Linked DNA regions of Homo sapiens: all the other regions are linked to region 1. Evidence: fine-mapped expression QTL. A gene starts in region 1. Each other region holds a variant in brackets. All regions are shown on one strand. Distances are from middle to middle.

What was found. PIP is the estimated chance that this variant, and not a neighbour inherited with it, causes the effect. A credible set is the group of variants that fine-mapping cannot tell apart.
Region 2: its variant is the best candidate, but not a certain one, in a credible set for the expression of CEACAM21 in whole blood (TOPMed, PIP 0.74).
Region 3: its variant is the best candidate, but not a certain one, in a credible set for the expression of CEACAM21 in whole blood (GTEx, PIP 0.64).

The regions. Positions count from the first base shown.
Region 1 is chr19:41,573,814-41,579,529 of GRCh38, reverse strand. CEACAM21 (CEA cell adhesion molecule 21) reads right to left here and starts at 3,364. Exons shown (of 7, transcript NM_001098506.4): 1 at 3,192-3,364; 2 at 1,971-2,330; 3 at 1-177. The coding sequence starts at 3,255.
Region 2 is chr19:41,624,736-41,630,451 of GRCh38, reverse strand. It overlaps CEACAM4 (CEA cell adhesion molecule 4), which reads left to right and starts at 3,378. Exons shown (of 7, transcript NM_001817.4): 1 at 3,378-3,552; 2 at 4,492-4,851. The coding sequence starts at 3,489. The variant G/C (reference allele first, on the strand shown) is at 3,553.
Region 3 is chr19:41,544,452-41,550,167 of GRCh38, reverse strand. It overlaps a transcript of CEACAM21 not described here. Among named protein-coding and RNA genes, the nearest start is that of LINC01480, 12 kb to the right of the region's middle. The variant A/G (reference allele first, on the strand shown) is at 2,860.

The DNA of each region.
Region 1 (5,716 bases):
TGGTGAGCACATGGTTAAACCAGGACAGCTTCATCCTCTTCGTGACCTGCAGACGCTGGTTGTTGAAAATCCACTGGAAAGAGGTTCCAGTGTTATTTGTGTGGCAGGTCAGGACCACGGAGCCCTTCTCTGTGACTGTGGTGCTGCTGGCTTGGATGGAGGGCTGAGCCACTGACTCTGTGGATAGAGTGACCAACAGAAAGTGTCTTGGGGCCATGCTGCATCCTCAGAGATCTCAGAGTCAAATTTAGAACATTCTCCTGTGAATAAAGGAGAAAGATGAAGGACAGGGAGGAGCAGAGAGAACCAGAGACACCCATAGCAGCGAGCAGTAGGGACTACAGTGACCTCAGAGACCCCAGGGACCAGGAGGACCCAGCTGCCTCAGACCAGGACCAGGGAGCCCTGAAAACCCTCCCACAGATGAGCGGCCCCAGAGTCACATGAGATGCAATACCTGGGGTGGCTTTAGGAGCAGGCAGTCAGAGAAATGGAACATGGGTCTCAGCCCCTAAGGGACAAGGAAGAGGTGTGGCCAGCTCCTCCTAGGATCCTACATCCAGGACCCAGTCTGTAAAGAGGTTATGATTATTCCTTTCTTTTTTCATTAATTCCCTCCCTCCTTCATCAGAGAACTACTGAGTGTGTGTCTCAGTTGGGCCTTGTGCAGGTACAGGGTGTAGTGGGAAGAGAAAGCTGAGTCCTTTCCTTCATCCTCCCATGGGAGTGACATCAACAAATCAAGAAATTCATGATTTCACGTCCAGTGAGGGAAGGAATGTGGATCTGATGGGAGAGGCTTGGACAATCCTGGCATTGAGTCTGATAGTTGAGACAGGTGATTTCGTTCTAAGTAAAAACTGACTAATTCTCCATTTGCCCGTCATTCCTCAGACCAGAATCTCCCTCTCTGAGCTGAGGATGCCCAAGAAGAAAGGAGCTGAACCAACATCTGGTCCTGGGGTCCACAGATGCCCCACGGTGGTGGCCACGACCAGATTCTGGGCTGCAGACACACGGTGGTGTGACGTTGAGCACTGACAGCCTGTGTGATGCTGATGCAATTTCTCTTTAATAAAATGGGGTACATGTCAATGGTCCCTGGCTTGCCATCCTCTCTGTAAATTAACATTAAAATATTTACAATTACCTGACCTAAAGCTTGGCACAGAATAGCTCCAAATAAACATCATCTATTATTATTTTACTCCAAAAAAAAAAAAAAAGAGTTCTCTGGGCCTGATTCCTGGTGGAGAAGGAGCGGTCCAGAGTGTCTTTTCTCTGCTTTCCCTCCTCCTGAGGACAGTGCACTTCCCGGGACATCTTTTAAGTTTCCCATCCAGTTTAATGGCCTGGGAAGTTTGTTTGTCTGTCCTCTCCACTCTGACTCTCAGGTGAAAGATGAGGCTCTGCCCTTGCCCAGATGGGGCTCTGGGGGCTGAGCCCTGCCTGGTGACCAGCTCTAGGAACCACGGCCCTGGGACAGCTGGTAAATCCTTGCTCACAATCAGCCCTGCCCAGGAAGCCACAACCCAGCCCTGGCACAGGCTCCCCAGGGTCATCTGGAGTCAGGATCTTGGGACAGGGGCCTGGGGCAGGGGCTTCAAGGGCTGAGCTTCTCTCAGAGGATCCTCAGGCCAGGCCCTGACTGAGTCCTATAAGATCTTTCTCAGGTCATGTCTATGAGGAGGAGGCCAAGGGGGGTTGGACTGAGACTGATTTTCCCCCGCTGCATCTCCCGCATCAGACTATCCTTCTTGCTGTAGGGAATTTCCACGGAGTCCGGATAAGGGAAAGGAATTCTGATCTGTTATAGTTTGTCTCCCCTGGGTGTGTCCTGCACTAAATGCCCAAACCCCAACATGGGACGTAATGCAGAGGGGGATGCAGGCACAGCCCAGGCCTGACAATCCTGCGTATGTGAAGCAGAACTGACCCCCAACACCCAGAGGCACGGAGGAATCACTCACCGTATACACGGAGATGGTGAGATGCCTGTTCAATCTGAGAATTTCTGTATGTGACTTGTAGGTTGTAGTATCCCGTGTCCTCTAGGGTGACGTTCTGGAAATGCAGATCTCCACTGGGTGATATTGTCTCTCGACCGCTGTATGCAGGCCCTGGAGTCCTAACGTGAGTGTCTATTACATATGCTGCGATTAGCTGGTTGGGCTCCACCGTTTTCCCTTTGTACCAGCCATAGCTGTAAAGATTCTCGGGCAGATAAACCACAGAGAGATGAACATTCTCCCCTTCAGCAACTTCAAAGGGCGCTGATGCAATAAAGAGCCAGGCAGTGGTGGGTGCGTTCCAGAAAGTTAAAAGTGAGGCTAGGAAAGGGAGAGAATATCAGTCAATATTTGACCTATGCATTGGCATGGAAAGACGGGGTCCTGGGTGCAGGTCTCTTCACCCCTCAGCCTTAGAGGGTGTGTGTGTGTGTGTGTGTCCTACTGGGTCAAAGTCAGCAGCATGACCCTCATTCCTTCAGTACCTCTGACCTTGGCATTTCCTTGTGTGAACCCTCTTTCCCAGGGGTCTGCATGGTTCCCTCCCCACTGCCTTCAGTTCCTACTCACACAAGGGAATCCCTGGGAGACTTCTTTCGTGAAGCCTCCTCTAGAGACCCTGGGTCTTCCCTTTCTGACCTTTCCCAGCTCTGTTCCCTCCAGGGCTCTTGTCAGCACCTGACCTCACATTCTAGATCTCTTTGGGTGTCTGTCTTCCCCCCCATGAGATTGTGAGCTCTGTGAGGGCATGGACTTGAGTGATGTTAGTTGCACCCCAGTGCCTGGGACAGGCTGCAGACTCCTGTGGATGAGTTCATGAGCGTTCCCAGGGCCTTCCATATCCTGGGGTTTATTTGCTAATGTCTGAGGTTGGCAGATGAAGACAGAGTTTCATGCCCTGGTGGTGTTTTTATTTAAATTGTCACTGTGATATAGTTTTACTATCATTTTCAAAGTGTAGTGGCCACTGACAATGAACTTGAAAACATGGACCAACTGAGATTGTTTTGCCCCTTGGCAATTCCAGTTCACTTAGATTTTTTGGTTCTCCTTAGACGCTCTCTCCCCTGAGTCTCTAACAAAAGCCCTCTGTCTCCTCTCAGAGCCCCATCCTCCCCAGGAGACCCCAGCCAGTCTCTGTGCTCCCTCCTCCCACCCACTCCCAGGGAGTCCTCCCCTCACCTGTGAGCAAGAGCCCCTGCCAGGGGATGCATTCTCTGTGGGGACAAGCTGAGGGGGGCCCCATGGTCTCTGCTGCCTGCTCTGTCCTCCTCTGTGGAGAGGAGCTTGGGCTCCAGGAACGCTCTAGACAGGGTTACTGTGACTGTTGTCTCTGCTGTCCTTCCTTCCTCTATGCTGAGCTTCCTCTCAGGCAGGAGCACTTCCCGTTTATGGGCAAGGGCGGGGCTCTGCCTACAATGTCTCTCTGTCCCCTCCCCTCTCAGTCCTGCCTCCCTTGTCCCTCCTTTCTCCTTCCTTTTTGCCTATATTTGGTTCCCTAGGCAAAACTTTGAGAAGCAACGCTGATGGGGTCCTCATAACAGGACGACCCACTCTCCCCAGTACTGACCTCTGCTGTGTTCTGGCCTTGGTTCTGTCACAGCCGGTAGATTATTTCCCTTTGTGACACACAAAACCAGCTGGGCCCTGGGTCTCCTCATGCTCTCCAGTGCTCCAGGAAGGCAGAATGATGCCCAGCAGGAAAGTGACAGAGGTGGCTCTGGGGGCTAGAAAGGGGCTCACTGGGTGATGGCTGGGAAGGACCCACCCGCTATCTTCAGTGTCACCAGCCTGGCCTCTGACCCAGGGACAGAGACCCAGGCCTGGAGGTCTCGGGAGGATCCCCAGCTCCTAGGTGTGGAGGGAGGTGTCCTGTGTGTCCTGGGAAGAGAGGACTTTGATGGAAGGAGGTGGGAGGCTCTGGGTTCTGCTGTCCTTGGTGAAGGTTTCAGGGGGACCCTCTCCGTGTCTGGGGTCTGTGCCCCCAGCTTAACTCTCATTCTCTTTGCAAATACATATATTTTGTGGATCTGCAGTTGCCTGAACTGTCTCATGTCCCTAAATCTTTGTATCCCTTTTTACAGAAGGTCAGGAAGGGTGTGTACATGAGTATGAGGACTATCTGATCAGGGCGAGTGTTTGTTTCCCAAAGATCTCTTTAGATATGGTATAATACATAAGATAAATGTACTGAATTAGCAATTTTAAGTGTAGAATTAAATGATACTAATTCTATTCACAATGTTGTACAACCATCACCATAATTTTTTACCAGAAAATCTTCATTATACCAAATGGAAACTTCATACTTTTAATCAATAACTCCCCACTTCCCCCTGCCCCACCCACTGGTAGCCTCTGATACTATCAATCTCTGTGAATTTGCCTAGTTTACATGTCTCATATAATAAGGAATTATATACGTGTATTATTTTTTTCTGGATTATTTCTCTTAGGGTAACACTTTTAAGATTCATCCACGTCGTAGCATATATTACAGCTTCTTTCCTATTTATGGCTGAGTAATATCCCAATATATGTTTATACCTCAATTTTAATTCATTCATCTCTTAATGGACATGTGGGTGGTTTCCACATTTTTGCTATTGTGAAAACCGCTGCAATGAACTTACACTTGGAAGTATCTGTTTGGGTTTCTGTGTTCATTTCTTTGGGGGTACATATAGGAGTATAAATATGGGGTCATGTGGTAGTTCTATGTTTAAGTTTTTGAGAAACAGCCAAACTGTTTTCCAGTTTGCTGTGCTATTTTATATTCCCATCAGCAATATACGAGGGTTCCATTTTCTCTACATTCTTGTAAACACTTACTATTTAATATTTTTTAAAACTTATAGCCATTCTAGTAGGTGTGAAGTGATAGCTCATTGCAGTTTTGATTTTCATTTCCCTGGTGGCTGATGAAGTTGAGCATTTTTTCATGTATTTGCTGACAATTTTAATATTTTTTAGAGAACTATTTATTCAAATCATTTGCTGTTTAAAAAAAATGGGTTATCTTTTTATTATTCAGTTGTAATAGTTCTTTATATATTTTAGATACAAGTCCCTTATGGGGTACATGATTTGCAAAATTTTTCTCATATTCTGTGTCTTCTCACTTTCTTCATGGTGTTCTTTGAAGCACAAACATTTTTAACTTTGATGAAGTTCACTTATCTATTTTTAATTTTGTTACTTATGCTCTTGATGTCATATTGAAGAAACCATTGCCCAATCCAAGATCATTAAGTTTTACTCCTATATGTTCTTCTAATGGTTTGATAAGTTTTGCTATTCCATTTAGGTTTTTGAAACATTTTGAGTTAACTTTTGTATGGGCTGTGAGGTAGGGGTCTAACTACACTATCTCGCATGTGGTTATCCAGTTGTTCCAGCACAATATGAAGAGGCTACCATTCTTTCCCCATTGAGGAATCTTGGCACCCATGTCAAAAACCAATGGGCTGTAATGGTGAGGGTTTATTTCTGGACTCTTGATTCTATTCCATTGATCTCTATGTGCATTCTTGTGCCAGAAGCACACTGTTTTAATGATTGTAGTGTTTTAGTAAGTTTTCAAATTAGGAAGTGAGTCCTCCAATTTTTTTTTCCAGATTGTTTTGGCCATTCTGGGGTGACTTTTAAAAAAGATGTAGTTCAATGGTTCTCAAAGCAGGAGTGGTTCAGCTCTCCTTTTTTGGCAG
Region 2 (5,716 bases), 51 kb before region 1:
AATTTACTTCCATTTTGGCCTGTGTGCCTAATTTAAATACTTTAAAAATCTGCATGCCTGGGTTAAAATTCTTGTGAATGCTCTTATCTGGATTTCTTTTTATTTGGTTTGACTCTTTTCCCCTTGCTTGCTTCTGAAAATCATCCCAGAACACAAAAAAATAGACATTCTAAATGACGGGCACAAAATGGCTAATTAACAGCCACTAGCGTGGTTGCCACCATCTAAAACACTGGTACAAATGCCTGACATTCTCTGGCAGGATTTGTAAAATTTTCTTCACTTTCAAGAGATTAATAAGAAATGGAATGGGGCTCTCAAGCATTAAGGCATGCCAGGTTTTCTGGGGCTCCAGCTGGCTACATTTTATGGTTCTTTCTTGTGCACATTTTAAAGTTTATGAGCAAAATTACATCAAGGAAAATTCAGTACTCAATGATCATCATTCAACCTGTTTTAAAAAGCCCTGCATCTATAGGGTGGAAATGTAGAGTCTTCTAAATTCTCTATTTTTTTTTCTCTACCTACTTTGAATCTGCTGACTTTTCTACTGGTGTTGAGATAAAACTCACTGCTTATGGCATTCTAGCCCAGAGTTTTAAAAAAGAAATCTTGAAGGGCTTTAAAATTAATGGCTTTACAAATTAAACAACTCCATGATAAGAAACAACTTAGACACCTTTAGGAAATGTAAATTTAAGTTTGTCTAACTAATAATTGCTTATAATGGAGCACAATTAAAAATCAATAATTAAAAAAATACATGGTTATAAAAGTTAGGCTCTCAGATCATACAGGTCAAAATCTTGAACTCAGAGCAATAATTTAAGGTGTCTCTGTCCGACATAAACTTTTTTCTTCTTTTGCCATGCAGAGGCAAAAAAGAAAAAGCCAGGAAAAAAAGCTAAAATCCTTCCTCATCCACATTTGTTAATCAAGCAAACCACATCACCACCACCCGCCCCCCTCCAACCCACACAAAAAATCTAGTTTAAGGCTAGTTGGAGATTTTTTTTTCTTATACAATTCAGCCAGTTCTAGCTAAAGTGTAAGCAATTGAAAATTTAATCCTAAACTCATGTGAAACAGAAAAAAAAAAGATGCTGAAACTGTAGAGGTTTCATTTGTTTATTTGTTTATAAGTTACACTGCCATTAGAAACTGCTTTACCCAAAATATTTCCCCCAGCCTTCATTATATTACCTATAGGGGCAAATAAAGTTTATCCATGTTAACGATTCCAATTTGTCAGAAATACAATTGGATCCAGTTGACTTTAATCAACTAGTGAGTTTGTATTACTATCTCATCACTAAAATTCTAAAATGAAAGCTGTAAGATTTTTATTTGTTTGTGGATATGTGTTTAGGTGTGTTTTTGCATATGTACATGTATTATGGTCTATATTGTGTCTACATGACAAAATCCACCTTAGTTGGCCAGAAACGCCTTAATAAACTCTATTTGCATTTCCTTAGAGAAATGAGCATAAGAACATGGCTTTTACCCTAGTAGCATCGGGAGGGAATTCAGGGTCTTTCTAACAGTGAGGGGCAAACCCAATTCATTCCCTGACATCATTCACTGACATTCCCTCCAGGCTCTAACATATGTCTTTCTCACAAACACACCAAAACTGACACAAACTCCGGATATTCGATCCCAGGTGGATCTTCCACCAGGGCAGAATGACCACAAGAAAGTCAGGGAGTGATTCCCCAGCCTCGAGATCCCCAGTATTTGGGACATCTGCCTATGGTCCCTGCAGACATTTCACCAGGGGATCCAGGGGAACTTCTCCTGCAGGAGGGGACAGGATAACCCAGGATCTGCCTTTGTTTCCATCTCAGAGGGACTGAGGGTCACGGGGCCTCCCCTGCTCTAATACAGGAACCAGGTATCCCTTGCAGCCTGCAGGTAGGAGCTGCCCCAGCTCCTGGGCCCTGTGGAGAGGCCTGGGGCAGGTGACAGACAGGGACACAGATGACCTGGAGGCGGAACTCCCAGTGTTGTGATGGAGGAACACAGAACACACCGAGGACCACCTCCCAGGCCAGTGCCCTCTCTCTAAACCCCCAGAGACACCTCCCTGGGCCCTTCTTTTGAAACCTTGGGGACGGATGGCTCTTTCTGAGGCAGCCCATCCGCCTGCAGGACAGTTCTCCCAAATCAGGACCAGGAGTGCTCTGGACAACTCTCGTCCTCTCCCTGAGCTCATCCTGCACTGCATGGAGTTGGACATCCTGGGGACCCACAGTGAACAGGACCAAGGATGACCTGACCCTGCAGTCTGGAGGTCAGAGCCCACCTCTGCCCAGGGGCCAGGGCCAACTCATACCACGTGGACCCTGGTCAGCATCCCTGGGGAAGCCCCTGACTTTTACCACAGGGTTCCTCTTGCTCTCCAGGGGCAACATTGCACGCAGACAACACAGGAAATGGATTCCCCTGGACAGGAATCTGGCTTTGCTAAGGAGGTGGAGGTGAAGCCTGGTTTCCATACTTTGCTCCAGCAGGCCCTTCCAGTCCCTCCCATGTGCCTGCTCTGTCTCTCCTGATCCTTCCTGGAGCCTCTGAGGATCCTGCTCTGCCAGGATTCTCTGCTCAGTTCTCCACTTTCTCCTGGTATCATGCATGGGGAAGGTACAGTGACAACAGGACAATCACCTTCACAGAGGACAGAGGCCACCCGGGATGGTAAGGGAGAACATGCACAGGCCCTAAGCCACAGCTCAGCCAACAGAAACGGAGAGGGAGGATCTCCCTGAATCCCTCCTCAAGGACAGCAGAACCCAGAGCCACCCACCTCCCTCCACCACAGTCCTCTCTTCCCAGGACATGCAGGACACCTCCCTCCACATCCAGGAGCTGGGGATCCTCCTGAGACCCCCAGGCCTGGATCTCTGTCCCTGGGTCAGAGGCAAGGCTGGTGACACTGGAGAGAGAGGACTGGTCCCCCCCGTAGTCGCCCCCCATTTTCTATCCCACAGAGCCACCTCTGTCACCTTCCTGCTGGGTATCATCTCACACTCCCTGAGTATTGGGGAGCATGAGGAGACCTGGGGGCCCAGCTGGGTCTCTGTGTCACAAAAGGAAACAGTTCCCCAAGTTTGGGAGACCCCAGAGTACCTCTGTTTGTGGTGACATTCCCAAAGGGTCAGTGCAGGGGTGACAAGTCACCCTCTCTGGGGACAGGGGACTCCACCAACCCTGCTTCTCAAAGTGTGGTTAGGAAACTGTAATGTACACAGAAGAGAAAGGGGAAGGAGGGACAAAAAAGGCAGAAATGAGAGGGGAGGGGCAGAGGGGTGACCTGGGAAGAGCCCCGCCTCTGCCCCTGGCCCTGGGAAGTGCTTCTGCCCGGGAGGAGGCTCAGCACAGAAGGAGGAAGGTCAGCAGCCCCGACAGCCGACAGTCACAGCAGCTCTGACAAGAGCGTTCCTGGAGCCCAGCTCCTCTCCACAGAGGACAAGCAGGCAGCAGAGACCATGGGCCCCCCCTCAGCCGCTCCCCGTGGAGGGCACAGGCCCTGGCAGGGGCTCCTGATCACAG[G/C]TGAGGGGAGGACTCTCTGGGAGTGGTGGGAAGAGGGAGCACAGAGACTGACTGGGGTCTCTTGGGTAGGAGGGGATAGAGGGCTTCTGGCTGGGGTCTCCTGGGGCTCTGAGAGGGGACTGAGGGCCTCTGTTGGAGGCTGGATAAGGGAGAGAACATCAGAGAGGGGCAGGGGTCACAACAGGAAAATCTCAGTGAACTGGAATTGGTAAAAGGCAGGAAAATCTCAAGTGTTCTCTCGTCCTGGTTAATCATCACTGGCCACTACATTTTGAAAAATGATAATAACTATACCAGATGACACTTCAAATAAAAACATAACCAGGGCATAAAACACTGCTCTTAGCCAACAACCTCAGACACTGGGAAATAAACCTCAGGACTTGGAGGCCCTGAGAATGCTCATGAACTCATCTACAGGAGTCTGCAGCCTGTGCCAGGCACTGGGGTGCAACCAAGATCACACAAGTCCCCGCCCTCACAGAGCTCACGCTCTCATGGGGAGGAAGACAAACACCTAAAGAGATCTAGAATGTGAGGTCAGGTGCTGACAAGAGCCCTGGAGGGAACAGAGCTGGGAAAGGTCAGAAAGGGAAGACCCAGGGTCTCTAGAGGAGGTGTCAGGGGAGGGGTCTCCCAAAAACACCCTGATGTGAGCAGGATCTGAGGGCAGTGGGGAGGGAGCCGTGCAGACCCCTGGGGAAGAAGATTCCACCAGGGAAATGCCAAGGTCCAAGCTGTTGAAGGAATGGGGGTCATGCTGCTGACCCAGGGACACACACACACACACACACACACACACACACACACACACACACACACACACACACACACACTCCAAGGCTGAGGGATGAGGAGACCTGCTGAGGACCCAGGGCCTTATCTTTCCATCCCACTCCATAGGTCCCAGTATTGACTGATGCTGTCTTCACCTCCTAGCCTCACTTTTAACCTTCTGGCACCCGCCCACCACTGTCCAGTTCACTATTGAAGCCCTGCCGTCCAGTGCTGCAGAGGGAAAGGATGTTCTTCTACTGGCCTGCAATATTTCAGAAACTATTCAAGCCTATTATTGGCACAAGGGGAAAACGGCAGAAGGGAGCCCTCTCATTGCTGGTTATATAACAGACATTCAAGCAAATATCCCAGGGGCCGCATACAGTGGTCGAGAGACAGTATACCCCAATGGATCCCTGCTGTTCCAAAACATCACCCTGGAGGACGCAGGATCCTACACCCTACGAACCATAAATGCCAGTTACGACTCTGACCAAGCAACTGGCCAGCTCCACGTACACCGTGAGTGATTCCCCCATACCTCTGGGTGCTGGCGGTCAGTTCTGCTTCACACACATGAGATTGTCAGGCCTGGGCTGTGCCTGCATCCCCCTCTGCATTTTGTCCCGTGTTGAGATTTGGGCATTTAGTGCAGGACACACACATGGTAGGTAAACTTCAACAGATCAGAATTCCTTTCCTGCATCCAGGCCCTGCAGACACTGATGGCGGGGGCGGGGGGGCCTCAGCAGGGGGAGGTCAGTCTCAGCCAAGCACCCCATGCCCTCCCCATGAACCTGACCCTGAGAAAGACCCTGGAGAACTGGGTCAGGGCCTGGCCTGAGGGCGTCCTGGGAACCTCACAAAAGCCCAGCCTCAGGACTCCTGACTCCGTGTGACCCCGGGAAGCCTGTGTCAGGGCTGGGGTGTGGTCTCCTGGGCAGGGCTTACTGGGAGCAAGGATTTACCAGATGTCTGCGGGCTGTGGTTCCTGAAGCTTCTCATCAGTGAGGGCTCAGCTCCCAGAGTCTCATCTAGACAAGGACAGAGCCTACCACTTTCCCTGGGACTCAGCCTGGAGAGGGCAGGGGGACAGGATTACTAGGGCATTGGCCCCCTGAATGAGGAGCTTAAGAGATGCCCTTGGGCAGTCAGTGGCCCAGGGGTAGGAACAGAGGGGAGAAAATGTTCCTGGCAGCTTCTTGTCCACCGGGGATCATGCCCAGGGGTGCTCTCCCATGGAGGCAAATAACAGATGCTGTTGATGTGAACACCTCCTCTGTGCCAAGCTTCATGTCAGATCCTGTGAATAATTTAAAGTTCATTCACAGACAAAGTGGCAAGCCTCAGACCATTTTCCATTTACATATTGTATGGAGGGGAAACT
Region 3 (5,716 bases), 29 kb after region 1:
CATCCTGTTTTCAACATAGTTCACATACAACTGGTTGTGTAAAAATGAAATTATTTTGTTTAGTACAATCATCAACAGTTGGTTGATTAGATTTTTAATTATCAAGTTAATCATTGTCATTATGCTTCTCATCGCACTCGTCATTAATTGCTGTGGGAGGAAATTTGTTATGTTCCCTATGAGAGGGTGTATCACAAATTCAAATAAGAATTCAACGACAATGGACTGTATAAAGGAAATAAGCAAGTCCATGGAAAACATATTTTTTTCCGGAAAGGATTAAAATATTTTTAAAAAGGAATTAAAAAAAAATTGGGCACGGTGGCAAATGCCTAGAGTCCCAGCTGCTCAGGAGATGGAGACAGAAGGATTGCTTGAGCCCAGGAATAAGTTGGAGGCTGTAGTGAACAGTGATTCCACCACTGTACTCCAGCCAGGGCAATAGAGGGAAACCCTCTTTCTAAAAAGACAAAAAGAAACAAAACAAAACAAAAAAACACCACATCAAAAAACCCAACAACAAAATGAAAAACCAAATAACAGCAATACAATTGGAGCTATTCGATCCAAAGAAGTAAATGAAACATAAAGCAAATAAAAGAGAAAAGCTAATACCTGTGTCCTGCAGGACTCAGTCCAAGTTCTGCTCTGACTCCCTCCTGGTGAGCCACCCCTTAAAAAGTCACTTGGGGCGGGGTTACTTTGACAGACAGTCTTCTGTCAAAGAGGGAGGCGGTAAATAGCACTTTTTTTTTTTTAATTTAACGCCTTTCCAACAAATTAGCGGCTATGTTGTCTAAGAGTGCAAATGTCAGAGGTGGGTACAGGCAGCAAGACCCTCCCCACAGGGGCAGCAGAAGGAGGAATGACTAAGGGAACAAGACTTTAGTGTGCTCAACTACACAGGACAGGAAACAGATGCTTTTTACAAAAGCTGGTGGACTTGAAGGCAGAATATTTTCAAGTTCCTGTAACTGCGAACTATGACCTGTAGCCTGTGAGAGTGACTTTCTGTGGCAAAGGAGCTTTTGTGAATGTGAGGAAGTTAATTATCTTAACAGTGGGAGGTTCTCCCGGCTTATCTAGCTAGACCCTCGTGAAATCCCAAGTGTCCTTAGGAAGGGGAAGCAGAGAGAGATTTGAGTCCAGAAGAGGAAGAAGGTGATGTGAGGCCCAGTAGGGGAACAAAGGGCGATGGCATGTAAACACTTAGCCCCCAGAAGTGGGAGAGGGCTGGGGTTCATCACACCAGAATCCCTAACAATCAGCCTTATTTTAATTACCCTTGAAATGGAAGGAGGCCTTAGAGAGCCAGAGGCTTGGAGGGGCACCCTCTGCTGCATACACAGATCCCAACTGCTGTGGGCTCCAAATAATTGCACCAGGGAAATCACAAATTATCAAAAATAAAGGATGTAAAGCTTTTAAAAAATATTAAAAGCCCAACAAATAAAAAAAGTTCTAAATCTATAAAATTGACCTCAGTCTGTATATTTAGATGAGTCATGTGTATATAGCGTTTCACTTCAAAATATATGATAAATCTCTCATTCATTGGCTTAAAAATAAACACTTCAATCAAGTCTTTATCAGAAAAATTGAAACGTTAACTCAATTGCCTTTTAGTTCATGTGACTTTACAAAACTTAAAACAATAAAGTCAGTTTTAAAAATTATTAGTAAAGTAAAAGAAAAATATCTTCACAATGTAGACATTTTGTCCACATGAGACATGTGAAATATTGCCATTACTAAATATTTGCAGGTCAAAAACTGTTTCCAAAACATTTTAAATAATCATCTGGCCTGTCTGTTTTAGAGCATTCAATTCTAGCTGAGGTCTGGGGACATGTGAAAGGAGCCACGGCCCGACTCCGTGCTGGGAAGAGTCAGACATTTTCCACAGCTCTGTCCTTTGCTGTGGGCTCTGCAACTCCTACCAATTAAAATTGCTTACGTTTTTGTTTTATTTTTACTAAAGAGGGGTTCCTAAAAGCTAACATTATACTGAGTATATGTAACTAAAACTACTAAGAAAACAATTTCACAATTATACAAATGTGCCAAGTAAATGAAAAAATAAACTGTATTTTAATAAAGGTTATAAAAAGAAAAACATATAGTGGTGTGAGGACTGTCTCAGGTCTTCACTGAGCAAGGGATCATGACATTCTATGGCGGACAGCTGACCTTGGCTTTCTGCTCCTCTTGATTATGTCTACTAAGTGACATACTTACTCTTTTTCCACCTGTCTTGCCTCTAAGGGTAACAGGTTTTATGAGATCCCTCCTAGTGCTTTGCAGGTCAGCCTCCCTTTGCTGCATTCCAATTTTACTGCCTATACCCTCCAGCTGGCTTTTGATGACAAAAGTCCTGGTCCCAGCCATTCTCAGATTCTGTCATCCCCGTGGGCACTATGGAGCTCAGCACTATGGGAGGTTCCCCAAAAATCTCGTTTTCTATGAGGAATGGCCACCACCTGCATCTCAGTGATGCTAGTGACCCCTTTCCTACTCCTGTGCTCACTGGTCCTCATGAAGATCCTGGTTGGTCTGTAGCCCCCTATTTTTCCTATTAAAGAGAAATTACAGTAAGACCAATTTGTGTGCAAAATCAATTTTAGGCTTATTACACTTGGCCTGATAATTTGCATAAAATGCAGCAAGAATTCATCGGCCATATAGGCTACTTTTGAGTTAATTTTCCTGGGTTTTTACCTAAAAATATACTATTTTGGTTAGAGTCTTGTGAAAATAACCAATGTGTTCAATTGTTTTATTTTAAAAGGCTCTTACTGAACACTATAAATATGTATAAGTTGAATATACAAACTATATTGTCATAAAATCACAACCCAA[A/G]ATGTGGAGAACGCAGAGGGAAAGGTAAATTTGCTCGCAAAAACATACTTCACCCAAATAACTGGAAAAAAAAAAAGACTTTCATGACCCTTCTTTAACCAGAGCAGCAGCTTTCAAACAAGATGTTTGCCTTGGAAATGCCATTCACAAGCCAAACGGCCCTTGAGAGCTGTCTGTCAGGCACTGTAGAATCTAGCAGCTCCTCACAGAGTTAGAAATAGTTTCAGGAAAGAGATTCCCTGCTTTTAGTAACTGCACTTTATATTCCCAGATAGCGAGATTGTATGTAAACCATTTTTATCTTATTCTGGAACTCTTTTGGGTACTTTTTTTTTTTTTTTAAATGATGGAGTCTGGCTCTGTTGCTCAGGCTGGGGTGTAGTGGTGCGATTTCAGGGTATGAGAAAATGCAGCTGGACCTGGCTCTTTCCAGGAAGACCCTCACAGCCAAGGAGTCCAAAGCCTGGGGTTTTCATCTAATTCCAGTGTGACTGGGGTAGGAGCAGCTTTGGTGCTGGGTGTGTGTGTGTGTGTGTGTGTGTGTGTGTCTATGCCTGTGTCTGTTTAGGGTGTTAGGCTCGTGGTTGTCTAGATACAAATGTCCCAGGGCTCAGGAGCCCCAGGGTTATGTCAGGGGCACCAGATGAAGGTGTCAACAGAAGTTAGGGCACAAGGGACAAAGGTGAGAGCAAGGTTAGATTCATTTAGGTGCAAGAAATCATAGAGGGAGGAGGGAGAGGAAGGCCTCCTGCTACCACCGAGGAAGAAGCGCAGCTTAAGGCAGAAAGCCTGTCCGGAGAGGAAGTGAGTTTGAGGGCAGGGCTCTCTGGGTAAAGTACGGTCTGGGACACCAGCCTGGGGGAAGGGTACAGAATGCAGAGTGGCCTGGCGTGGGGACTAAGAACAGAGGAGAGCAGCTTTCACTGGGAGGGTCAGTGTTTTCAGTGTCCAGCACTGAGCAAGGTGAGATTTGGGCAGCTTGCTGTGAAATAAGGTCAGGCTCTGGCATTGTCCCCATTGCGTGTGTGTGTGAGGGGCACTTTGGGAGAGTGAACTCTCCACCTCCATCCTCTCATACGTCCTTCAACCGAGCTTGCCAGTTACCCTGATTCCAAGGAGATCTATTTATTGTTGACAATACTGGATCCTAGCAGAGGCTGGGTAGGAGCCTGGGCACAAGCAAGTGGAGGAGGGGGCCTGGGCCTGAAAGACCTGGGAGGTTTGAGAGAGGACACAGCCCACAGAATGGAGCAGATGGGGTAGAGTCGGCAAGCATTCAGGGCTCCTAGTAAGTTGGACAATGGAGACCCTGAAAGATCCAGTAAAACGGGGAGAACAAACAGGTCCCCAACTCACATCCTTGCAGTGCCTGGAGCTTCAGACTCCAGACAGGTGGGGAAGGAAAATTGAGGGATGTGAACATGTTGGAGAATGTCGTGCCCTGAAGAATGAAGAAAAGGGGGGTGAGGAATGAGAGCAGGAACGGCTTCCAGTGCCTGGTGCCCAGGAGAACTCAGAAAATGGGTGTGGTGGAGAGGAATCGAGGAACCGGAAGTGGTGGAAGTGTGCAGGGCCCCTCCGAGATCACTGTGACTGCCAGGCGTCCTCCCTGGCTGGAGAGCTTCACTGTCCTCCTTCCCAGCCAAAATGTGTCCCTTGAAAGCTTCCTCCCCAATGGACTGGTTCTGGGTCCTATATATTTGAAGGGGTGGCCTGCCTCTCCACACCTGTGGGTATTTCTAGTTGGGTGGGAGGAGAGACAGAGAAAAGAAATAAGACACAGAGACAAAGTATAAAGAAACAACAGTGGGTCCAGGGGACCAGCACTCAGCACACCAAGGGCCTGCACCGGCACCGGCCTCTGAGTTTCCTCAGTTTTTATTGATTATTATTTTCATTATTTCAGCAAAAAGGAATGTAGTAGGAGAGCAGGGTGATAATAAGGAGAAGGTCAATGAAAAACATGTGAGCAAAAGAATCTATATCATAATTAAGTTCAAGGGAAAGTACTATGCCTGGACGTGCACTCAGGCCAGATTTATGTTTCTCTCCACCCAAACATCTCAGTGGAGTAAAGAATAACAAGGCAGTATTACTGCAAACATGTCTCACCTCCCGCCACAGGGCAGCTTTTCTCCTATCTCAGAGTTGAACAAATGTACAATTGGGTTTTACACCGAGACATTCAGTTCTGAGGGGCAAGCAGGAGACAGTGGCCTTCCTCCATCTCGACTGCAAGAGGCTTTCCTCTTTTACTAATCCACCTCAGCACAGACCCTTTATGGGTGTTGGGCTGGGGGACAGTCAGGTCCTTCTCATCCCATGAGGCCATATTTCAGACTATCACATGGGGAGAAACCTTGGACAATACCCCGCTTTCAAGGGCAGAGGTCCCTGCGGCTTTCCACAGTGTATTGTGCCCCTGGTTTATTGAGACTAGAGAATGGCAATGACCTTTACCAAGTATACTGCTTGTAAATATTTTGTTAACAAGGCACATCCTGCACAGCCCTAGGTCCCTTAAACCTTGATTTCATACAACACATGTTTTTGTGAGCTCCAAGTTGGGTCAAAGTGGCTGGGTCAAAGTGGCTGGGGCAAAGCTACAAATTAACAACATCTCAGCAAAGCCATTGTTCAAAGTACAGGTCTTTTTCAAAATGGAGTCTCTTATGTCTTTCCTTTCTACATGGACACAGTGACAGTCTGATCTCTCTTTCCTTTCCCTACATATATTCATGGACCACAGTCTTCAAGGAGTCCATTTCCTCACTGTTTTTGGTTTGATTTCTCTGAAATTAGGAAATGCCCCATTGAGGCACCCAGGATTGTCTTTACTTCCCCCAGAGCTTCCACT